Regions from separate parts of the Homo sapiens genome. Here region 1 is linked to region 2. The links come from fine-mapping of genetic effects on gene expression. A gene starts in region 2. The other region holds a variant in brackets. All regions are shown on one strand. Distances are from middle to middle.

Region 1 (12,719 bases), 68 kb before region 2:
TGGCCGGGCAGGGGGCTGACCCCCCCTCCCCCCTCCCGGACGGGGCGGCTGGCCGGGCGGGGGGCTGACCCCCCCACCTCCCTCCCGGATGGGGCGGCTGGCCAGGCGGGGGGCTGACCCCCCCACCTCCCTCCTGGGCGGGGCGGCTGGCCGGGCAGAGGGGCTCCTCACTTCCCAGTAGGGGCGGCCGGGCAGAGGCGCCCCTCACCTCCCGGACGGGGCGGCTGGCCAGGCGGGGGGCTGACCCCCCACCTCCCTCCCGGACTGGGCGGCTGGCCGGGCGGGGGGTTGACCCCCCCACCTCCCTCCTGGACGGGGCGACTGGCCGGGCAGAGGGGCTCCTCACTTCCCAGTAGGGGCGGCCGGGCAGAGGAGCCCCTCACCTCCCGGACGGGGCGGCTGGCCGGGCGGGGGGCTGACCCCCCCCACCTCCCTCCCGGACGGGGTGGCTGCCGGGCGGAGACGCTCCTCACTTCCCAGACGGGGTGGTTGCCAGACGGAGGGGCTCCTCACTTCTCAGACGGGGCGGTTGCCAGGCAGAGGGTTTCCTCACTTCTCAGACGGAGCGGCCGGGCAGAGACACTCCTCACCTCCCAGACAGGGTTGCGGCCCAGCAGAGGCGCTCCTCACATCCCAGACAGGGCGGTGGGGCAGAGGTGCTCCCCACATCTCAGACGATGGGCGGCCGGGCAGAGACGCTCCTCACTTCCTAGATGGGATGGCGGCGGGGAAGAGGCGCTTCTCGCTTCCTAGATGGGATGGCGGCCGGGCAGAGACGCTCCTCACTTTCCACACTGGGCAGCCAGGCAGAGGGGCTCCTCATATCCCAGACGATGGGTGGCCAAGCAGAGACGCTCCTCACTTCCCAGACGGGGTGGCGGCCGGGCAGAGGCTGCAATCTCGGCTCTTTGGGAGGCCAAGGCAGGCGGCTGGGAGGTGGTTGTAGCGAGCCGAGATCACGCCACTGCACTCCAGCCTGGGCACCATTGAGCACTGAGTGAACGAGACTCCATCTGCAATCCCGGCACCTCGGGAGGCCGAGGCTGGCGGATCACTCGCGGTTAGGAGCTGGAGACCAGCCCGGCCAACACAGCGAAACCCCATCTCCACCAAAAAAAAACGAAAACCAGTCAGGCGTGGCGGCGCGCGCCTGCAATCGCAGGCACTCGGCAGGCTGAGGCAGGAGAATCAGGCAGGGAGGTTGCAGTGAGCCGAGATGGCAGCAGTACCGTCCAGCTTTGGCTCGGCATGAGAGGGAGAGGGAGACGGGAGAGGGAGAGGGAGACGGGAGAGGGAGAGGGAGACGGGAGAGGGAGAGGGAGACGGGAGAGGGAGAGGGAGAGGGAGACGGGAGAGGGAGAGGGAGACGGGAGAGGGAGAGGGAGACGGGAGAGGGAGAGGGAGACGGGAGAGGGAGAGGGAGACGGGAGAGGGAGAGGGAGACGGGAGAGGGAGAGGGAGACGGGAGAGGGAGACGGGAGAGGGAGAGGGAGACGGGAGAGGGAGACGGGTGTTTGTTTGTTTTAAGTAGGGTTTGTTTGGGCCAAATTTGAAGACTGCAACCCAGAAGACATAGATTCAAGTTGCCCTGAATATATGCTTCAATTAGCAGCAGCTATACATGGGTTTTTAAAGGAAAAAAGAAGGGGTAGTTCTTACACTGGTTCATTAAAATAACATAAGCTATTGATTGGCTATACATTTTTTTTTTTGTATCACAAATTCTAGGAACATGAAGATAATGGGTAAGGGTCACATTCTGCAACTTGTGATAACATTTTAGGTCATTTATCAGCTAGTCTGGAAACTACAGGTAAGGAAAGAAAGAAGAAAATGCTTTTAAACAATTGCCTGGGTGCAGGTATGTATGTGTGACTGAAGTATACTCATGACTCGCTGGGTGTGATACATTTTGCAAACCTCACATAGCTCAGACTGCTCTAAGCTACTTCTCATTCTCAATGTACAGGGATTTCTTCCCACATATAACCAAGCAATTATTATTATTATTATTTTTTAGACAGTCTTGCTCTGTAACCCAGGCTGGAGGGCAGTAGTACAATCTCAGCTCACTGCAACCTCTGCCTCCAGGGTTCAAGCAATTCTCCTGCCTCAGCCTCCTGAGTAGCTGAAATTACAGGCGTGCACCACTATGCCTGGCTAATTTTTGTATTTTTAGCAGAGATGGGGGTTTCACCATGTTGGCCAGGCTGGTCTCGGACTCCTGACCTCAGGTGATCCACCTGCCTCAGTTTCCTAAAGTGCTGGGAATACAGGCATGGGCTACTGTGCCTGGCCCAAGCAATTCTTTAGCAGAGTCTCCCGTGGACAACAGCTGGGTGTCCTCCAATTCAATAACATCACATCTCACACATTGAGTGCTCAGTTCCACAAGACTGCCTGTCACTTCAGAGGTCAATTGCAACCCTCAGGTTGTAACCTGATCTTCTCACTGGCTGGCTATAAATCAGGGCTCCCCTCCACCCCCTCTTTGAGTTTGATTAACTTTCTAGAGTGGCTCACAGAGCTCAGGGAAATCATTTACATGTACACATTTATTTTATAAAGGATATTACAAAGGATACAGATGAACAGCATGATGAAAGAGATACATAGGGCAAGGCATGAGGGAGGGGGATGAACTTTCAGGCCATCTCTGGGCACACCACCCTCTAGACACCTCCACATGTTCTGCAATCCAGAAGCTCTCTGAATCTAATCATTTTAGTTTTTTTTTTTTTTTTTTTTTGGTACGGAGTTTCACTCTTGTTGCCCAGGCTGGAGTGCAATGGCGCGATCTCGGCTCACCGCAACCTCCACCTCCCGGGTTCAAGAGATTATCCTGCCTCAGCCTCCCAAGTAGCTGGGATTACAGGCATGTGCCACCACGCCAGGCTAATTTTGTATTTTTAGTAGAGATGGGGTTTCTCCACATTAGTCAAGCTGGTCTCGAATTCCCAACCTCAGGTGAGCTGCCCGCCTCGGCTTCCCAAAGTGCTGGGATTACAGGTGTGAGCCACCATGCCTGGCCCATTTTAGGTTTTTATAGTCTTCATTACGTAGGCTCGATTGTGTGAAAATAAGTAATTCAAAATCTAAGTGATTGTGAAAGCAGCAAGAGACAGACAAATTCCTAGGCAGACAGAAACAGGTCCCCGGTGAAACCCAACCTTCAAGCCAAAGACAGCCTGCAGCCTGAAAAATGGGCTGCCCATTCCATATAGAGTCCACAAGTGGAGTAAGAACTTCCTCAATGCCTTTTTAGCCAGTCGAATGGTGCTTTTTCCAGGCCTGCCCATGGACCAGTCAGCATGCACGCCCCCATCCTGAGCCCATAAAAACCCTGGACTTAGCCACATGTTGGGACTACCCACCTTCAGGCCCCCTCTTACACAGAGGGCTACCCACCTCAGGTCCCCTCTCATGATGAGAGCTGTTCTGTTGCTCAATAAAAGCTTCTCTGCTCTGCTGACTCTCTGGTGTCCATGTAACCTCATTCTTCTTGCACATGAGACAAGAACCTGGGACCCACTGAACCATGGGTGTGAAAGGAGCTGTAACACTGTAGCCCACCCATCCTCTGCCAGTGTCGGGCGGCCATCCCACGTGACAGGAAGAGGCGGCGGTGGGGCTGGGGCAGCCCAGGAACCTCAGGCCAGAGTGGGGCAGCAGGATTGACGCCCCGTTCACTGAAGCATGTGGATGGCAGGAACTAATGAGCCATAACATGTCCTCCCGTTTGCCACTGGGAGGCAGGAACAAACATAAGCTGTAACATGAATGAGCTGTAAGACGCTCCCCACCACCACCATTTGCTGTGCTGTAGGCAGCAGGAAGGAGAGAGAGCTCTAACAGTCCTTGGGGGCTCACACCTCAGGACTCCCCAGGTGAGAGCCATAACACCCCTTGGGGCTCTGTGGTTGCTGGCATCTCCAAGTTTTCAGGTGCTGCTGTGTCCCCCTCGTCCAGACACCGGTGCCCAAGGTGGAAGACAGTCATGACATGCCTGGACCAGCTGCGGGCTGAGTGCAGAGCCACGACGGGTGCAGAATCTGGGCTTGTAGCATGAACCAAGCACAGCCTGCTGGACTGAGTGGGGAGAGTAAGCCCAGTGGTGAGCCCGGAGCCAAGCGAGGCCCGGGTAGGGGTGCCCCCAGCCATGAAGATTTCTGGCTGGTGAGGTGGCACTGAAAGAATCCTGTGTCAGTTGGAAGTTTAAAATATTTTGAACCTTAAGGGAATGTGATTATGGGACCTGAGTGTCATAATCAGGCAGCTATAACCTAGGCAGCCAGCTGTAACTTATGTTTCTCTGATTATAGAGTGGCCTTCTTCCTTACCTACATTGTTTTGTAAAATGTTGTAAATGACTAAAGAGCATCAGGGACCCCTTCCCTCTTAACTGTTGATTTTCATTTTAGATTAACCTCCCTCTTTTCCTTCCCACACAAAGACTCCGCGACTATCACATTATCTAAGATAGAGTGTCAAATACACACCTTTGAATTGGAAAGGAAATGAAAACAAGTTGTAAAGAAAAGGAAAGCTGTAAGGAAAAGAAAATAAACTGCAACTAATTAAATTGTAACTCATACACCAGTCTGATATAGAAAATGTTATAATCCTACTAAATTTCTTTATTTTCAGCCAATACAAGCAAGACCTTAACTTTTAATTTTGGAGCACTGACCCCATTTCTCTGGAGTCTATGTTACCCAGATGACTGTTCCCAGCTTTTTGCTTGAATATACTCTCTAAAACTGGATGCTGATGCTTTTGGTTATTTCAGGATGACAACTGATTATATCATTGGCCACTGATGATCAACTCCACTTTCTCTCTCCTCCCTGGAAGTTGGGGGTGGGGTGTGGACTGAAAGTCCCAACCCTCTAATCCTACCTTGGGCTTTCTGGTGACCAACCCCCATCTTGAAGCTATCTAGGGGCTGCCAGCCCCATCAGTCACCTCATCAGCATACAAAAGATACTCTTATTACTCCTCTGACTCCAAGGGTTTTAGGAGTTGTGTGCCAGGAACCAGGGACAGACACCAAATATATATATCTTATTATGAATCACCATATCAAAGAGGTAAATAATTATAAGATACTACTCAAATATTCTTTAGCCTATCTAATTTTCAAAAAGAGATGTTAAGAGTTCCACATGATTAGTGGATTTGTCGATTTCTTTTTTTTTTTTTTTGAGATGGAGTCCTGCTCTGTCTCCCAGGCTGGAATGTAGTGGCCCGATCTCAGCTCACAGCAATCTCTGCCTTCCGGGTTCAAGAGATTCTCCTACCTCAGCCTCCTGAGTAGCTGGGATTACAGGCATGCACCACCACGCACAATTAATTTTTGTATTTTTAGTAGAGACAGGGTTTCTCCATGTTGGCCAGGCTGGTCTTGAACTCCTCACCTCAGGTATCAACCTGCCTCAGCCTCCCAAAATGCTGGGATTACAGATGTGAGCCACTGCACTGAGCCGGATCTGTCAATTTCTTTTAGTAATTCTGACCATCTTTGTATTATGCATTTGAATCTATGTGATTAAATGTATTAAATAAAAATTACAGGATGTTATTGTTTTGGACTAAGTTTCTGCTCTTGGATCCAATGGACAAGATCAAAAATCAAAACGGACTCACCTATGCCAAAGTTCCACATCACTAAACCCAAACCAAGTTGACTGACCCTCCCCAAAATCACAAATAATTTCCCAAACAGGCCAGTTTAAATCTTCATTTGGCATGATAATGAAGTTCCCTCTGCTTTAGTCCTTACAGGAAAAAAGTAGCTTGATGTTTGCTAGTCAGTTATTTTTCTATTGTTCTGTCTCTCTGTCCCTGCCTTATAAGAAACATAGCTTTGAAATCACCAATATGCTCTTTGCTCTTTGCTTCTGCTTTCTGTCTTTGTTTTTTTGAGACAGGGTCTTGCTCTGTTTTTCTTTAGCTGTTCTGTCTATAAAGCCAACCTCTTCTGTTGCCCAGTTCTAGAACTGCCAAAAAGCTAGTTAACTGGGAGTGGGGTGAGGGGGAGAGGACTAGAAGACTTAAAAAATAATTTTATTTATGATATAATAATACTGTATACCTGACAGTGATTCATCCAGAACAGAGCTGAGAACCTAGGAAATAAGAGGCGTTTAAGTCACCAAACAAGGTATTGCACTTTATTCATAGGAAAATGTCCTCCTCAGTGTACTTGCTCTTGTTTTATAAAAACTTCTAAAAACTTTGTGGCTCTTTGGCAGTCTCACCAAATTAGAAATTGCCTATTAGAAGAGAATGTTCTCAGACGCAGGCATGTGAAGGTCAGAAAAAGTGTTAATTAACAGCTAGGAACAGGACAATATGTATTTGTTAAAAAAAAAAAAAAAAGATACAGAAATGCAAAAACACAGCAGTTTGGAGTGGTTCTTTGAAGGGACAAGCCGTCCAATAAGTTCCCAAAGGTATTGAAACTGCCTTTGGAAAATTATAACTGAGGAAATTGTGGCAGTGAAAGAAATCAGACCTAACTGACTCTATCTTGCTTCTAACCTTTAAGCTGTCCTTGTTCATTCCTGGACATAGGCCGAACTAGCTTTGGGAAGGAATTCAGTTCATGGTTTGACTCTGAAACAAAATTATTAACAGCCCATTCCTGAAAAGACCCCCTTCTTGCCTGGGGAGCAGTCTGCCTTTGCAGGACCAACAAATTAGCTACAAGATTAGAAATTACAGTTTAGGGGTCTTGTAGCCTCTGGCTCTAAGAGTCTGAGCCTCCCCAGACTGCTCCTCGGGATAACATCACTATTGTAAAACCTAAGATCAGTGCTTGAGATATTTTGCAGACCCTGTACTCCA[T/C]GGATCAGCTGACACCACCCAGACCTGTAATAAGGCTCAACCAGTTCTGCTATCCCACCCAGGAACAGAAAACAGCAAGAAAACCTCACTTTGACTCCCTATGATTCCATCTCCAACCTGATCAATCAGCACTCCCCACTTCCCAAGCCCGTGCCCCACAAATTATCTTTAAAAACTCCGATCCTCGAAGGCTCAGGAAGGCTGATTTAAGTAATAATAAAACTCTGGTCTCCTGCACAGCCAGCTCTGCGTGAATTACTCTTTCTCCATTGCAATTTCTGTCTTGATAAATTGGCTCTGCCTAGCCAGAGGGCAAGATGAACCCACTGGGCAGTTACAGTATCCCCACATTATGTGCCACCAGAGTGACACATCACAATGATGTCCCAGTGCTAAAGCAAAAACTGAATGATATGTATTATGTTTATTTGATTTTTCATTTTTTATTTTTATTTTTGGAGACAGGGACTCACTCTGTTGCCCAGGCTGGAGTGCAGTGGCATGATCATAGCTCACCGCAGCCTCCACCTCCTGAGCTCAAGTAATCCTCCTGTCTCAGCCTCCCAAGTAGCTGGAACTACAGATGTGTGCCACCACACCCAGCTAATTAAATTTTTTTTTTTTTTGTAGAGACAAGGTCTCATTAGGTTTCCCAGGCTGGTCTCAAACTCCTGGGCTCAAACAATCTCCCAACGTTGGCTTCCCAAAGTGCTGGGATTACAGGCATGAGCCACTGTGCCTGGCCTATGTTATGTTGAAAGTGGCCAAGGATGGGCCGGGTACGGTGGCTCACGCCTGTAATCCCAGCACTTTGGAGGCCGAGGTAGGTGGATCACCTGAGGTCAGGAGTTTGAGACCAGCCTGGCCAACGTGGTGAAACCCCGTCTTTACTAAAAATACAAAAAATTAGCCAGGCGTAGTGGTGGGCGCCATTAATCCCAGGTACTCGGGAGGCTGAGGCAGGAGAATTGCTTGAACCCAGGAGGCGGAGGTTGCAGTGAGCCGAGATCACGCCATTGCACTCCAGCCTGGGCAACAAGAGTGAAACTCCATCTCAAAAAAAAAAAAAGAAAAGAAAAAAGAAAAAAAAGAAAGTGACCGAGGATGTTTAGCTTTTGAGAATGATTTCTGTACAAAATGGTTAAAAGAAAACAAAGCAATAAGTCAAAACATTTTGGTGCATAAAGAAGTAGCATTGCAATGATGTTAGTGACACAGGATGATTTTGATGCCGCTTCGACACCTGGAAACATCCACGGCTGGCAGCAACTCTGTCCAGGCTTGGCTTGGCTCTGGGCTTACTCCTGGGCTCACTCCACCAGCTCGCCCTGGCAGGCTGCGCTCAGCTCAGGCTACCAACCCAGATCCTGTGCATGCGCAAGGATTCCGTGCTCAGCCTGCAGCTGAGCCAGGCATGCTGTGGACCATTTTCATGTTAGGCACCAGCTTTTAGATGAGGGGAACGCGGTAGCGGCTGAAAACACGAACATGCCAGCAACCATGGAGCCCCAAGGGGTGTTATAGCTCTTGCCTGGGATGTCCCAAGGTTTGAGTCCCCAAGAAATGACGCAGCTCTCTCTCATTCCTGCTGCCTGCAGCACGGTGAATGGGGGGCGTATTACAGCTCATTTGTGTCACAGCTCCTCCAGTCCCGTCGCCCGCAGCTTGGTGAATGGGGGCATGTGGTGCACAGTGGCTTTTTCTCCCCCTTTGCTCGGCGAGCAGGAGGGAGAGCTACAGTGTTACAGCTCTTTGCGCACCCACCATTTGGTGGGTTCCAGGTTCTTGTCCTGCAACCAAGAAGAATGAGGTTAGGCAGACACTGGAGAGCGAGCAAGGCAGGGAAGAATGTTATTGAGTGACAGAAAAGCTCTCGATAATGAGAGGGGACCTGAAGTGGGTAGCCCTGTGTGACAGGAGAGCCTGAAAGAGGGTAGCCCAATGTGTGGTGAGTCCACGGTTTATATGGGCTCAGAATGGGGGCGTACATGCTGATTGGTCTATGGGCAGGCCTGGAAAAAGCACCATTCAATTGGCTAAAAGGCATCAAGGAAAGTTCTCACTCCGGTTGTGGACTCTACCCAGAACTGGCAGCTCAGTTTGCAGGCTTTAAGCTGTCTTTGGCTTGAAGGTTGGGTTTCACCAGGGACCTGCCCCTATCTGCCTAGGAATTTTTCTCTCTTGCCACTATGATTAGGAAAACAATCTGTTTATGTAGTGCCACGTATTCAGTGCTGCGTACAGCGTAGGAGTTCAGTCCTACCGAGCCTGCTTGCAGGCAGTGAAACAATGCAGGAGCCGGGCACGGTGGCTCACGCCTGTAATCCCAGCACTTTGGGAGGCCAAGGTGGGTAGATCACCTGAGGTCAGGAGTTCGAGACCAGCCTGGCCAACATGGCGAAACCCAGTCTCTACTAAAAATACAAAAATTAGCTGGCCATGGTGGCGCGTCCCAGCTACTTGGGAGGCTGAAGCAGGAGAGGTACTTGAACCCAGGAGGCAGAGACTGCAGTGAGCCAAGATCGCGTCACTGCACTCCAGCCTGGGTGACAAAGCAAGACTCAGTCTCTAAAAAAAAAAGAAAAAGGGAAAAAGAAACAATGGAAGAACTCTATGAAAAATCCATAGCTAATGCTCAAAGGCAAAAGACAGGATGCTTTCCCCGAAGATCAGGAACAAGACAAGAAATTACATACATATAATGCAATAGAATATATAAACTGTCTTAGTTGGGTGACACTAATGCAAACCAAAAATAGAATTCTAAGACCCCCAATTAACTGAATGGACCCCTTCTCTCAGCCGAGGGGATTCCAAAGTAAACCTGAAAAACCATTTCAGGCCATGATAGGAAAAAGGTGTTGAACGTGCCTCATTATACTCTCCTCTTGGAATTCAGGCACAGCTGCCCAGCATTAACATTAAAACAGGGACCTTGAGGCCAACAAAACATACTCTTTGTAGCAATAAGATACCAAATTCCAACCTGATTCTAGTATAGCATCACATGACAGCCAGCAGGCCCTAAAATATTAAAGTATTTTACCCCCAAAATATATTTCTTTGACATATTTCTTTTTTTTTTAGACAGAGTGATGGAGTCTCGCTCTGCTGCTCAGGCTGGAGTGCAGTGGCGTGATCTCGGCTCACTGAAAGCTCTGCCTCCTGTGTTCATGCCATTCTCCTGCCTCAGCCTCCCAAGTAGCTGGGACTACAGGCGCCCACCACCACACCCGGCTAATTTTTGTATTTTTAGTAGAGATGGGGTTTCACCATGTTAGCCAAATCTCCTGACCTCATGATCCACCTGCCTTGGCTTCCCAAAGTGCTGGGATTACAGGCATGAGCCACCATGCCCGGCCTTCTTTGACATTTCTAAATGACCCTACAAAGTGGTCTCTTGTGGGGGAAATTTACATTCTCTAGAGAATTCTGGCCCCTTTCCAGGTCTTTTTCTGATCCTGAAGAGATTGGTTCAGAATCTAGCACCTTTTAGAGATCTAAACAGGAAACATTTGCCATCTATTGCCTCTAAGGGCACCCACCTGTGAGACTTCATCTATATAGTAAGAACTTTAGTCTCCACAACCCACCCCTTATCTAAACCCAGATACTCCTTTCTATTGATTCCAGGTGTTTTGTTTTGTTTTGTTTTGAGGCAGAGTGTCGCTGTCACCCAGGCTGAAGTGCAGTGGCAGGATCTCAGCTCATTGCAACCTCTGCCTCCAAGGTTCAAGCAATTCTCCTGCCTCAGCCTCCCAAGTAGCAGAGATTACAACAGGCATGCATTACAACACCCAGCTAATTTTTTTTTTTTTTTTTTTTTTTAGTAGAGACAGGGTTTCACCATGTTGGCAGGCTGGTCTCAAACTCCTGACCTCAGGTGATCCACCCTTCTTGGCCCCCAAAATGCTGGGATTACAGGTGTGAGCCACTGTTTCTGGCCGATTCTGAGTCTTAAGATAATAACTCTTTCAACAAATTGCCAATCAGAAACTCTTTGAATCCACCTAGGACCTGTAAGCTCCCCTCCCCAACCTTTCCGGGCTAAACCAATGTACAGCTGACATGTATTGATTGATGTCTTATGTCTCCCTAAAACATATAAAATCAAGCTGTAACCCAACCACCTTGGGCACATGTTCTTAGGACCTCTTAAGACTGTGCCTTGGGGGCTGGCACAGTGGCTCACGCATGTAATCCCAGAACTTTGGAAGGCTGCAGTGGGTGGACTGCCTGAGGTCAGGAGTTTGAGACCAGCCTGGCTAATATGGCGAAACCCTGTCTCTGCTAAAAATACAAAAAATTAGCCAGGCATGGTGTTGGGCGCCTGTAATCCTGGCTACTCGGGAGGCTGAGGCAGAAGAATTGCTTGAACCCAGGAGGCGGAGTTTGCAGAGAGCCTAGATTGTGCCACTGCACTCCAGCTTGGGCAACAGAGCGAGACTCCGTCTCAAAAAGAAAAAAAAAAATTCTCCCTAGTTTATGTTCTTTATAGCTCTTAGGTATGTCTAAAATCACTTTACTGGTTTATATGCTTATTGTCTGTCTCTTTCCATTCTAATGCAAATCCCATAAGACAAGAATCTTGTCTGTCTCATTTACATTTTATCCCTATTGCTTAGCAAAGTGGCTGGCACATGGCAGATCTTCAAAAATTATTTGTTGACGTCTTTTTAAGGGACAGGGTCTCGCTCTGTCACCCAGGCCAGACTGCAGTGGCATGATCGTAGCTCACTGCAGCCTCAAACTCCTAGGTTCAAGTGATCCTCCCACCTCAGCCTCCAGAGTAGCTCAGACTGCTGAAACATGCCACCATGCCTGGCTATTTTTCTTTTTAATTTTTTGTAGAGATGGAGTCTTGCCATGTTACCCAGGCTAGCATGGCTAGCATTCCTGTTTTGTTTTGTTTTGTTTTCCTTTTTCATGAGACAGAGTCTCACTGTCTCCCAGGCTGGAGTGCAGTAGTGTGATCTCAGCTCACTGAAACCTCCACCTCCCGGGTTCAAGCGATTCTTGTGCCTCAGCCTCCCAAGCAGCTGGGATTACAGGTGCATGCCACCACGCCTGGCGATTTTTGTATTTTTAGTAGAGATGGGGTTTCACCATGTTGGCCAGGCTGGTCTTGAACTCCTAGCCTTATGTGATCCACCCGCCTTGGCCTCCCAAAGTGCTGGGATTACAGATGTGAGCCACTGAGGCTAGCATTCTTGTTTTATTACACAGTACCTTTTCTACTCACAAGCTCCTGAGATCATGCATGTATTTCTCAGCTTCCTTCTGCCTAGACACGCCCACACTTCATTCAAGTCAGACTAAGATAGGAGTGCATCAACCATATGGTATTTAATATGGTGAAATTTCTAAGGCACTAAATCTTAGGGAAGCCATGTCTTTCTCAACACTGTAGCCCACCCCCCTCAATATAAACTCAATGGACAAATATTTACAGAATATTCATAGCAATGCCTGGTACTTAGCCATGTTAACGAGGATTCAGAGCTCTGAATCTACTTGGTTGAGCGGGTAGGTAAGTAAACAAATAAATACAATTTAATGCTGAAGGTGCTTGACAGAGCTTCACCCAGAGTATTATGTTCCAAAAACTAACAAAGACATACATACCTCCCAGCCTAGTCAATATAGTGTAAGACCCCACCTACAAAAAAAAAAAAAAAAATTAGCTGGGCAGGGTCACACTTGCCTGTGGTACCAGCTACTCGGGAGGCTGAGGTGAGTGAATCGCTTGCGTGGTTGAGGCTGCAATGAGCTTTAATCATGCCACTGCACTCCAGCCTGGGTGACAGAGCAAGACTCTGTCTCCAAAATAAAATAAAATAAAATAAAAAGCATTCCAGAGACCTTTGTCT
Region 2 (12,719 bases):
TGACATAACAATCAAGCTAACTCATACATACACAGACAGATAGGCAAGTTACACAAATGGCCTCATGGATGACACTCTCGAGTGTTTAGGGATAAAATATAGGTTTACGTCCCAAGTATAGTATATATTACATAAGTAACTTCAAATCTCTATGTCTCAATTTCCTCATTTGTAATTTTGAGACCGGTATTTGTCAAGGTTGCTATGAGAAGTTAGAATCAAATTATGGAAAGTAGCTGGGCATGGTGGCTCACACCTGCAATCCCAGCACTTTGGGAGGCTGAGGTGGGTGGATCACTTGAGGTCAGGAGTTCGAGACCAGCCTGGCCAACACGGTGAGACCTCATCTCTACTAAAAATACAAAAATGAGCCAGGAGTGGTGGCACACACCTGTAGTCCCAGGTACTCTGGAGGATGTGGCAGGAGAATCACTTGAACCTGGGAGGCAGAGGTTGCAGTAAGCCGAGATCGTGCCACCGCACTCCAGCCTGGGTGACAGAGCGAGACTCTGTATAAAAAAAAAATACCCTCTCTATTAAAAATACAAAAAGATTAGCCGGGTGTGGTGGCAGACACCTGTAGTCCCAGCTACTCGGAAGGCTGAGGCAGGAGAATGGCGTGAACCCAGGAGGCGGAGCTTGCAGTGAGCCGAGATCACGCCACTGCACTCCAGCCTGGGCGACAGAGCGAGACTGAGTTTCAAAAACAAAAACAAAAAATTATGGTTGGCACCTAGCATCATACCAGGCACACAGGTGGCACTCAACAATTGTTGGTTTCTACATGTCCTTTATAGCTATAGTATCTGTTAGTAGTAGAAACCACTGTTAATTTTAGGGCCCTAAAAGGAGTAATGTCTTCTCAAGTTCCTTCCAAAAGAGCAATTGCTATTTAGTAAAAAATAAACACCAACTGCTCTTTCAGAAGGAGCTTCAGAAAGGTAGAAGGGTCAACAGTATAGAATACTTACAAAGAACTGGAATCAATTAAGAATGCAAAAACAGTCAGTAGATGTATAGAGCACTCTTGACATAAGTAACTCCATCTTAGAAAAAGACTCCTATCTTTCATTTCAAAAAGCACTTTGACAACAGGGACCAGATGTTTTTCCAGATAAAGACACAACCAAGCATGCTCTTCCACTATCAGTCCTTACCAGAAGACTCTGTGACCATAAAAAGAACAGGACTTAAAAAACTCAAAATGGTCTTAACAGACACTGTCTTGCTGTCACTTGTTATAAAAGCCTGATATCTGTGTCCAAAGGCTCTGCCCACATCAAGGATTCTTTCTTACAAGACCAACACACTGCCATGATGAAACCAGGATACTTGTCTATATCACTCTCCCCGGACTGGTTAGGTAACCCTTTTTCCTCACCCTTTTCTCTTGATGTTCAATGTTACTTTGTTGCAGAATGTTTAATCTACATCATTTATGTATTAATTAGGTATACTATTATATATGATTTACAATATTGACTGACTACCTAGTGAATGAGAAGTACTAATAAAAATTGCCTCCTTGAGAACTCCATGTAACTTGTCTTTTATAACTGAAATAACACAATAAAAGTCTGACATTGTGAAAAGACACAAATGTGTGTGTACCTGGTTATCCATGACCTTAAACCATTCACAATAGTAGATTAAGCTGTTAGGAAGTCAGAGTTGACCTTTGGAAGAACAGTTCCAGTGGTCAAAGTAGGATGAGGAAAGGCAGTACGTGCAGAATATATATATATATATATATATATATATATATATATTGTTGTTGTTGTTGTTGTTTTGTTTTGTTTTGGTTTTTTTTGTTTTTGAGACGGAGTCTTGCTCTGTCGTCCAGGCTGGAGTGCAGTGGCGCAATCTTGGCTCACTGCAAGCTCCACCTCCCGGGTTCATGCCGTTCTCCTGCCTCAGCCTCCCGAGTAGCTGGGACTACAGGCGCCTGCCTCCATGCCCGGCTAATATTTTGTATTTTTAGTAGAGATGGGGTTTCACCGTGTTAGTCAGGATGGTCTCGATCTCCTGACCTCGTGATCTGCCCGCCTCAGCCTCCCAAAGTGCTGGGATTACAGGTGTGAGCCACCACACCCGGCCCAGAATATTCTTTAAATAAGCTTAGCACAAAGGGAAAGAGAACAGGCAGAGGCTGAAGAAGCTACCAGATTCCAGATCAGATTGGTATAGTTTTCTGATGGGACAGACCTGACCATGTTTGAGGGCTGAACAGAAGCAGATACTAGGTTAAAGCTATAGGAAAGAGATGAAAATTACTGGAGCAAAGTCCTGGAAGAAAACTGGCCATGGGCTGGAGGGGAGGACAAAGATTGAAGGTAGCAGACACTGAATATGTCTATTTTTCCTCTGAGACCAGCAGAATGTAGAAAACACGAGTACAACTGTAATTGGAAAAAACTGAAAAAACTCATCCCAAGTAGGTTCTATTTTATCTAGAGAGTAAAAGGTAAGATCATCTGCAACAAGTGAAGGGAATGGGTGGAGATGGCCATGAGGCAAGAGAACATTTCAATTCCCTTAAATTTCTAAAACTAGGTATAAGTGCTGTATTTGCAAGAATATACTTGAGACAGAAATGAATAATTATGGTCTTACTACAACGTTCCATTATGCTAGATGCTCCACAAATATAATCACATTTACTTCCCACAAGAACCCAGTTAAGTGAGGCATTGTTATTGTCCCTGTTTTATAGTTCGATTGATGATGGCATTCATAGTTAAGCTTTACTACAGAACCTTTTTTTTCAGCTATTATGCCATATTTGCTTCTTAAAAAATTAAGTTATACAATACTATGTATGACGATATAATTTCATTAATCGTTTTTGATTCAGGCATAAACAAAGTTAGAAAAGTAATTCCAGGCCAGGCGCAGTGGCTCACGCCTGTAATCCCAGCACTTTGGGAGGCCAAGGCAGGCGGATCACCTGAGGGCGGGAGCTCAAGACCAGGCTGACCAACATGGAGAAACCCCGTCTCTACTGAAAATACAAAATTAGCCAGGCGTGGTGGCACATGCCTGTAAACCCAGCCACTCGGCGAGAGGCTGAGGCAGGAGAATCGCTTGAACCCAGGAGGCGGAGGTTGTGGTGGGCCGAGATTGCATCACTGCACTCCATGCACTCCAGCCTGGGCAACAAGAGCGAAACTCCATCTCAAAAAAAAAAAAAGAAAGAAAGAAAGAAAAAGAAAAAAAGAGAAAAATAGGCAACAAGTGAAAAAAAGAAGTATCTTTGTAGATTAAATAGAAATATATTACCACTATTGCCAGTCACTCTCTCTATAGCAGGAGTCAGAAAACTATGGCCTATGGGCCAAATCCAATCTAATATCTGTTTTTGAAAACAGTATTTTATTGGAACACAGCTCTGTCCATTCATTTACTGTCTACAGCTGATTTCACACGACCATGGCAATGTTGGGTAGCTGTGACAACGGTACACAAAGCCTAAAATATTTCCCATCTGCTCTCTTTAAAAAGTTTGCCAATCTCTATGTTCTTTTATAGCACTTAACTGTATCTAAAATTATTCTACTTATTTTTTATTTATTCATTTATTTTTTATTGTTTTTTTTTTTTTTTCTTGAGACGGAGTCTTGCTCTTGTCACCCAGGCTGGAGTGCAATGGCACAATTTTGGCTCACTGCAACCTCTGCCTCCCAGGTTCAAGTGATTCTCCTGCTTCAGCCTCCCGAGTAGCTGGGATTACAGGCGCCCACCACCATGCCTGGCTACTTTTTGTATTTTTAGTAGAGACGGGGTTTCACCATGTTAGCCAGGCTGGCCTCGAACTCCTGACCTCAGGCGATCCGCCTGCCTCAGCCTCCCAAAGTGCTGGGATTACAGGCGTGAGCCACCGCACCCAGCCTATTCATTTATTGTCTGACTCCCCTATTGCAATGCATAGTTCATGAAGAAAAAGACCTTCTCTACTGTACTCCTTGCACCTAGAACAGCGTGTGGCACATAGAATGCACTCAATAAAGGTGTTTAATGAACATTTATTGCAAGAAGGAAGAGAAAAACATTTCCCATCTTCTCACTTTCTTCTCTTAGATGCACTCCAACTATTTCCCCCACCACTCCACCAAAACTGGTCTTTTCAATTAACCACTGGATTTATCAACATGATAAATTCTCAGTTATTTCTCAGTCCTCACCTTACTTGACCCATCAGCAGCATCTGACCCAGCTGGTCTACTTCCTTCCCCAGAAACACTTTCTTCACGTGGCTTTCACTCTTAGTTCTTAGCTTCCCTCCTGCAGTACTGATCCATCCTTCGTTTGTCTCCTTTGCTGGTGCAATCTTATTTTCTCGGCCTCTTAATGGTTAGCCTGCTCCAAGACTCAGTCATTGAGATTCTTCTGTCAGTCCATACACACTTCCCTAGTGAGCTCATCTAGTCTCACGACTACTCTTAGGCATTTCAAACTCCTCCAAAACCAAAGCCAAATTTATCATTTCCCCCAAAACCTTCTCCTTCACAGCCTCTGCCATCCCAGTAAATACCACCATCCCTCCAGTTACTGAAGCCAAAAACTCTTGGAGTCAACCAACCCTCATTTTATAAATATATTCCAGGTCAATGATCACTTCTACCATGTCTGCTACCACCCGGATCCAAGTCACCATCATCTCTCGCCTGATAATTGCTTGTCCCCTGTTCCCTTACATTCTACTCTCAACACAGCAGCCAGGGTGATCACGTTTAAAGGTAAATCAGCAAGTTCAACAGCTAGCCAGAGTGAAAGTCTCACACAATTTGGCCCCCTGAAACCTATTTGCCTCTTTGTTCCCTCCACTCCGGAAACACAGGCCTCCATGCCCATCTTAAAGCAAGTCACGCAAGCGTCCATCTCAGCCTTCATGCTGGCTGAAAGGCTCTTCTGGCTGAACTGAATGAACCAGGCTTCCTGAATTAGGCATTTTCATGAAATGCTGTGTCACTTAATTCTCTAAACTCTGTGAGGTAGGTATCACTTCCCCCACTTTACAGATTAAGAAAGTAAGGTTTACAGGGCATCTAGCTAACAAATGATGGAGTTAGGGTTAAATCCAGATTAGTCTACAGAGAAGGTGAGCTCTCAGTGAAGTTTCTGGAGGCTAAACAGAGGATTCAGTGATGTTCCTCTGAAGTCACAGTGATTTTAACAGCTAAAGGTGTGTGCTAACAACTGGTGAAGAATATGAGAAAAGGCAGTCAAAGAGATAAAAGAACCACAAGAGGAGTCACCCAAGCCAAAAGTGGAAAGTTTTAAGGAAAAGAGGGGAGAGGGGAAGTGTCAAGTGGAACCTAGACACCAGAAGCCCAAGAATCAAGCGTATACCTCATAACAAACCACACTTGTGGTAGACAGGAACCCAGATCTTGATTTAGAAAGAAAGAAAAAAAAGCCAGGCACAGTGGCTCATGCCAGCAGTTTAGGACGCCAAATCGAGAGGATCGTTTGAGGCCAGGAATTCGAGACCAGCCTGGGCAACACTGCCAGACCCCAAAAATTTTTTTTAAAAATGTAGCCGGGTGTGGTGGCTCACACCTGCAGTCCCAGCTACTCAGGAAGCTGAGGTGGGCGGATCGCTGGAGCCCGGGAGATCGAGGCTGCAGTGAGTCGTGATCGCGCCACTGCACTCCAGCTTGGGCAACAGAGCAAGACCCTGTCCGGAAAAAAAAAAAAAAAAAAAAGGATCTATCTTCTCCTGCCAATAACGGTGCCCAGAGCTATCCTACTAGGTATTGCCACTTGCCCGCGGCAAGCGTGAAGACAGGCTGTAGGGAAGCATGTGACTAAGCAACACGGCTTCACACCTACGTTCTCCTCCGGGCCAGTAAAGCAAAGTGTGTGAGTGTGCGGTGGTAGCCTGACCTTAAACTTCCCACGGCAAAGATGCGGACCCTGAGCGGGCACGTGTGAACACGGCTCTCTACCCCGCAGTCTCTAGGAGACCAGGAGGTGGCGGAGTCTCGGCCCTTACCCCGAATTCCTCCAACAACTTTCCGCCAATGGCCCATTCCTCTCTGCCCCACAGTCATGACAGTGGACCCCAACCCACACTACCTCCCTCTCAGACCCATCCCTCAGGCATATCCCGGGACTGGCCCCCGAGAAGCCTTATAACCCGTTGCGGCCCGGGCGTAAAGACCCCGTCTCACCACGGCTCCGGCCACGGCGTGGACCAGGCTTTCGTAGGACAGCACGGAAGCCATTGGTGCGGCTCCTCGAAGACCCAGCCACACTTTTCCCACAGATGCCGCAGCCAGTGGAGTTAGGAAAGGAGCACCGGAGCTCAGGGTGTGAGAGTCGCAATCCCCGCCCTCTCAAACCCGCCCGCCTGCCCTAGAACCACTTCCGGGTCGCGGGGCGGGAAAGCGGGGGGGGGGGGGCGGCTAAGAACGCCCCTGAACGCTGATTGGCCCCTGTGGGCGCGGGGCGGGACAGCGAGGTGTTCGCGGGGCTGGGCTCCAAGGCGCAAGGCGGCCTGACACCAGGTACCCGGCTCCCGGTTCCTCCGACGTTCTCTGGCGTTCCCGGGCCCTGACCAGTTCCTCCATCTCAGAAGTCTTAATGGCCTTCTTTTACTCTGGTGACAAAGATGGGGAAACTCAATGAGACTCCAGTCTCCCTGTTTCTCTGCGCCTGAGCTCTTTTCTATTCTGAAAGTCACATTTTGGCCAAGAGGAAAAAAACTCACTTGTGGACTTGGAAACTTCTTCCTCCAGAAAAACCCTTGAGTGTGGTGGGAAGAGATGTTGAGCATCAGGAGCCCAAAATACAAGACGCGAGTGGGAGCCTCCCCCTAGTTGGCAACTATGGAAGTCATTTAACCTCTTGGGTTTCCTCTGTGAAATGACAATGTACTAGTACCAACAATCCCCATCTGCTGTGAGGATTACGAAAGCCAATTTATGTAGTAGTACTTCATAAAATACTGAAGGAAAAAAATTTTTTTCCATGTTGCAAAGTGACTAACAAAATTACACAAAACTAAAGCAGCCACATTCAGCTTTAACCTGTCATACTGTGAGATTCTGCTTCAGGATGCTCCTCAGGGACTCAGGGATTCTTTCCTGAGACACCATCACCACTTGTCTTTACCATGTTTCCTTTTAGAATATCCTCGTGATAACTCCTCAGTGCTGACTACATGCCAGGCTTAGTGTTTTATGCCCATCATCACACTTAATCCCTGGGAGAGGGGTCTAACAAAGTTTAACCTGGCCGTTTTCACAAAATTTGCAGAAGATACTGCTTCCAGGAACATTCCCATCACGCCATAGAATCATGACGTGAAAGTGAAGGACCAAAAGTGAAGCGAAGATGATTTTGGGCTGGGCGCAGCGGCTCAGGCCTGTAATCCTAGCACTTTGGGAGGCCGTAGCGGGCAGATCACTTGAGGTCAGAAGTTTGAGACAAGCCTGGCCCATATGGCAAAACCCTGTCTCTATTAAAAATAGAAAAAATTAGCCGGACATGGTGGCACGCGCCTTGTAGAAATTACAATGTTGAAACTGCAGCTACTAGGGAGGCTGAGGCAGGAGAATCGCTTGAACCCAGGAAGCAAAGGTTGCAGTGAGCCAAGATTGCACCACTGCACTCTAGCCTGGGACAGAGTGAGACTCCTAAAAAAAAAAAAAAAAAGATTATTTTGGCATGGGAACATAGAAACTAGTTGGCTGTAAAACTTGAGAACTCAGTTCTCATTGACTCCTGATCAAATTGGGAGCTTGCTGTCAAGAATATACTGGATTATGCATCATAGTTATGAAAACATTGTTAATACTTTGTTTTGACGTTTTTGTATCTTACATACCAAAAACATTTTGATCAGCTTTTTTTTTTTTTTAAACCTGAGACAGTGTTTCTCTGCGTTGTCCAGGCTGGTCTTGTACTCCTGGGCTCAAGTGATCCACCTGCTTCAGCCACCCAAAGTGCTCGTATTACAGGCATGAGCCACTGTACCGGGCCTTGCAACCTTTTTTTTTTTTTTCAGATGGAGTTTCACTCTTGTGGCCCAGGCTTGGCTCACTGCAACCTCCGCCTCCCGGGTTCAAGTGATTCTCCTACCTCAGCCTCTCGAGTAGCTGGGATTACAGGCATGCGCTACCACGCCCAGCTAATTTTTGTATTTTTAGTAGAGACGGGGTTTCATCATGTTGGTCAGGATGGTCTCAAATCTCTTGACCTCGTGGTCCGCCCGCCTCGGCCTCCCAAAGTGCTGGGATTACAGGTGTGAGCCACAGCGCCCAGCATGATCAACTGAAGACTGACATACTGAAAACAGTATTTTTTTTTTTTTTTTTGAGACGGAGTATCGCTCTGTCACCTAGGCTGGAGTGCAGTGACGCGATCTTGACTCATGTTAGCCTCCATCTCCCGGGTTCAAGTGATTCTCCTGCCTCAGCCTCCCGAGTAGCTGGGACTACAGGTGCACGCCCCCATACCTGGCTCATTTTTGTATTTTTAGTGGAGACAGGGTTTCACCATGTTGGCCAGGCTGGTCTCGAACTCCTGACCTCAGGTGATCCACACACCTCGGCCTCCCAAAGTGCTCAAATTAGAGGTGTGAGCACTGCACCCAGCCAAAGTCATTTTCATATAATCAGTATGCACTGAAAAACGTAGACACTGCATAGCTACATCAGTTATTAACTGGAACTATGAAGCTGTGATGTTCGAGACACACACATACATACATATATATATACACGTATATATATATATATACGTATATATATATACGTATATATACGTATATATATATATATATATATATACACACATATACGTATATATATATATATATTTTTTTTTTTTTGAGACAGTTTTGCTCTTGTCGCCCAGGCTGGAGTGCAATGGCGCAACTTCAGCTCACTGCAACCTCTGCCTCCCAGGTTCAAGCAATTCTCCTTCCTCAGCCTCCCGAGTAGCTAGGACTATAGGCATGCACCACCACGCCTGGCTAATTTTTGTACTTTTTAGGGACAGGGTTTCACCATGTTGACCAGGCTGGTCTCGAACTCCTGACCTCACCCCCCCCCCCACCCCCTGGCCTCCCAAAGTGTTGGGATTACAGGCGTGAGCCACCGTGCCCGGTTGAGACATAATTTTTAAAAATTATAACTTAGTTGAGCACAGGGGGTCATGCCTGTAATCCCTGCACTTTGGGAGGCTGAGGCAGGAGGATTATTTGAAACCAGGAGTTCCAGACCAGCCTGGACAACAAAGTAAGACCTCATTGCTGTTAAAAACAAACAGATGGGCATGGTGGTGCATGCCTGCAGTCCCATCTACTTGGGAGGCTGAGGTGGGAGGATTGCTTGAGCCCAGGTCAAGGCTGTAGTGAGCTGCAATTGCATCACTGCACTCCAGTGTGGGCAACAGAGAAAGATTCTGTTTCAAAAAACCTAAGGATTGTAATTTTTGGCTGCTTTTTTCGTTCTAAACAAGTATCTACTTGTGTGTCCAATTTAGTGTTCATAATTACATTCTTTTCCTTAAAGAGGGTCCTTTGAATTATATAAGCATCATACCCCTTGACACTACATAAAGTATATAAAAAATTTAGGGCCATTCTATATACACCCATGCTATAAGAATTAAAGGAACCTAGCTAGTACTTGCCATTTCGTGTATGTTGCTTTTACACTGGCTTAAGTATGGTCAGGTTACTTACCCTGCAATCTAAAAATGTCCCAGTGATCTGTGTGAGTAAACTACTTAATTATGTATTAGATGCCTAGATTTTCAGAGCACCACAGACATTTACATTAGTTCTACTTACCTCCTGGCTTCTTAGAGCCGTAATTTTAAAATTAGGATTTCACCAAACGTCAAAGTTTTTATTTATTGCTAAACAACTTTATAGAAAACCATAAACTTACACTTCCACCAGCACTATATGAAAGGTCTCACTGAAAAATTGCCAACTTGACATACTATTTAAATTTGCTTTTTAAAGCTCAGTTACTCACTTTTGTTGCCTATTTACTTTAGGACATTTTCCTCTCCAAACTGTATGAGCTCTATTAAGTACATTATATACTGGTTGTAAATACTGGCACATATTGAACTTTTTATAATTACTGTACTATAATTTTTACTTAGTTTATTCTTGCCCTTATTTGGGGGCTCGTCATGCACTTCAATTATGCTGTGTCCCTTACTATTAGGAAGAAACCCCCTGGATGTACACATCAGCACATCAAGTGTGTGACACTCCTTATTTAACCAACCTTATTCAAATGTACATTTTAGTTTTCAGTTCCTTAAACAATTCTGCAAGAATCAACCTTGTACACAGAGGCAGCACAGTACAGAGTTTGGGAGAAAGCCCTTTGAAGCCACAAACCTCTGTATTCAAGAATCTCAGCTTTACAAATAATCAGCTGTGTTATCCTGGGCAATTTACTTATTAAGTGCTTCAGTTTCCTTATCTATAAAATTGTAAAGTGGTGCTAACAGTATCTACCCTTATGGTCATTATCAGAATTGATCCAATACTTGCAAACTGATTATAACAGGGCTTGGCACAAACACTACTTACCTGTGCCTACTCAGGTGCATTAATTTTAGTCATCAGCAAATCTCTAAAATGAAATTGTTTCTCCTTTATCTTATCAAACTAGTATTTCCTAGTATGGTAGACTGCTAGGTGTCACCCCAAGTCGTCTTTCCTGTTTCTACTCTTAAGTTTTTTCTTGAGCATGTGATCACACAGTTATGGATGACAAACTGGCTTTCCCTGCAGCTAAACATAGCCTGAACACACAAACTGACCAATGGGATATTAGAAGTAATAAAATGTTAACATCATATATTATCTTCAGTATCTCAGCGTGTTTCCCAGAGCCCCCTTCTCCTATTTCCTCAATTGGAGAATGAGCACCAGAGCAAGCAACTTTGGACTAGAAATGGAAGCTACCTTCTAAGTATGGCAGAATGCCTGCCTCTGAACAGCTACCCAAAATAAAGTACATGTTTTTTAGGGGTTCTTGTTTGCAGCACTTAATAGTCTGCAGCCTAATATACCTAGTAAATAACCTGAGTACCAGAGACATAAAATAGAACATATGCTACAAAAAGTCGGGGGTGGGGGGGGAAATTAAAAACTAGTTTTTGTTTTTTGAGACTGTGTTTCGTGATCTCAGCTCACTGCAACCTCTGCCTCCCAGGTTCAAGTGATTCTCCTGACTCAGCCTCCCGAGTAGCTGGAATTACAGGTGCCCAACACCATGCCTGGCTAGTTTTTGTATTTTTAGTAGAGACGGGATTTCGCCATGTTGGCCAGGCTGGTCTTGAACTCCTCACCTCAGACGATCTGCCCGCCTCGGCCTCCCAAAAGTGTTGGTATTACAGGCGTGAGCCACCGCACCTGCCCAATATCTAGTTTGAAACCGTATTTTAAAGACAGCTAGAAATATAACTATATTTTTAAGCAGAAAAAACTTCCTTCTGATAGCATCAGTACAAGAAAACATTTCTGGTTTAGAATATTGAGTTGAAAATTAAGAATGTATATTATGGAATTTAAAAATCTAAAAGCACAGGACACATTTTCAGAAGAGGAATTTTACTTTTACCCACTTATGGTAATATTTGCAATATTAGAATATAATTAGGTTAAATAAATCAAATAAGGAATCCAGAAGAAACTGTTCTTGAGTTAAGCCAAGTACACACTGGCAATTTCGAGAAAGGAGAACTCTACACATTAACAAAAGAACACACAAGCTCAAATGCAAGTTTATATGGTGAGTGTTTTTAAAGGATTTAAAAAGCATGCTCCATCAGCATAATAGCTTTTTCTCATTTATGTAACAGATGCATTTCTGTCTGCTTGTGTACAGCAAAGGGTTAGAACCTGAATAAACTTATTTATGATTTCAGAAATGTGGTATTTTAGAAATGTACTCCATAGAATTTACTTCACTGCTCCTACCACTGATTCTTCAAATAAGCAAAGTACAGAAGGCCTTATCCCTTGAAAATGTTTTTAAACACTAGCACTTTAAATTGAAACACTGGTAGAAACGTAGCAATGTCAGGTACAATGCCTATACTTAGTCTTATTTAAAATAAGAATTGAATGCACAACAGAAAATTTATCATTTTCTTTATCATTGGAGGGGAGGGAAAGAAAGCAAGCAGAGGTGGGGATATAGTTACACTATTTAAGAGCTGAATACAAAGACAATGAGTCTTTCATAGTCTCAACAACTCCACAATGAATAACTGTGGATTATCTCATTTATAATTCACATTGGATAAAAAAAATCGGTTCCCCTCTGTGTGTATCAATTTAATTCAAACCTTATCTTCAGAATACAAAGATGAATACTACAAGATAAACTAACTGCAATAGGTTTTTCTAAGTAGAAGACCAAACACCAAAGGGAATCCCTCTTTCCAATGTCTTCTGATAAGGCAAGATTTTGCCAGAATGGAAGTCTAACACTTAAATAAGCATTCTCTTGGCCAAGTAAGAAACTACAGTTGTTGTGGGTATTACCCTACAATTACCATATGTATTACATATTAAATTAAACTCAGCATTAAATATGCTTGTATAATTACGCTGTTAATGATGATAGCAGTGATGATGCCGGTGGAAAAAGCCTGTCTTTAGCTCAAGAAAAGTAAGGGAGACAAATGTAGCAAGCAGAAAGCAAACACAGATTTGGGCAATTTTTGACTAGGAA

Which allele goes with the higher level. Positions count from the first base shown, and alleles are read on the strand shown. Sizes are in standard deviations (SD) of each study's normalised expression.
With allele T in place of C in region 1, the expression in ovary of the gene that starts at base 6,325 in region 2 is higher (moderate effect, 0.40 SD a copy in GTEx).

Evidence for each region. PIP is the estimated chance that this variant, and not a neighbour inherited with it, causes the effect.
Region 1: its variant is fine-mapped to the expression of SLC25A17 in ovary (GTEx, PIP 0.95).

The regions. Positions count from the first base shown.
Region 1 is chr22:40,745,120-40,757,838 of GRCh38, forward strand. No RefSeq gene overlaps it. Among named protein-coding and RNA genes, the nearest start is that of MIR4766, 62 kb to the right of the region's middle. The variant T/C (reference allele first, on the strand shown) is at 6,850.
Region 2 is chr22:40,813,022-40,825,740 of GRCh38, forward strand. It overlaps SLC25A17 (solute carrier family 25 member 17), which reads right to left and starts at 6,325. Exons shown (of 9, transcript NM_006358.4): 1 at 6,174-6,325. The coding sequence starts at 6,227. ST13 (ST13 Hsp70 interacting protein) reads right to left here. Exons shown (of 12, transcript NM_003932.5): 12 at 11,514-12,719. It overlaps MIR4766 (microRNA 4766), which reads right to left and starts at 937; the gene lies at 862-937. RefSeq lists an enhancer at 4,298-4,357.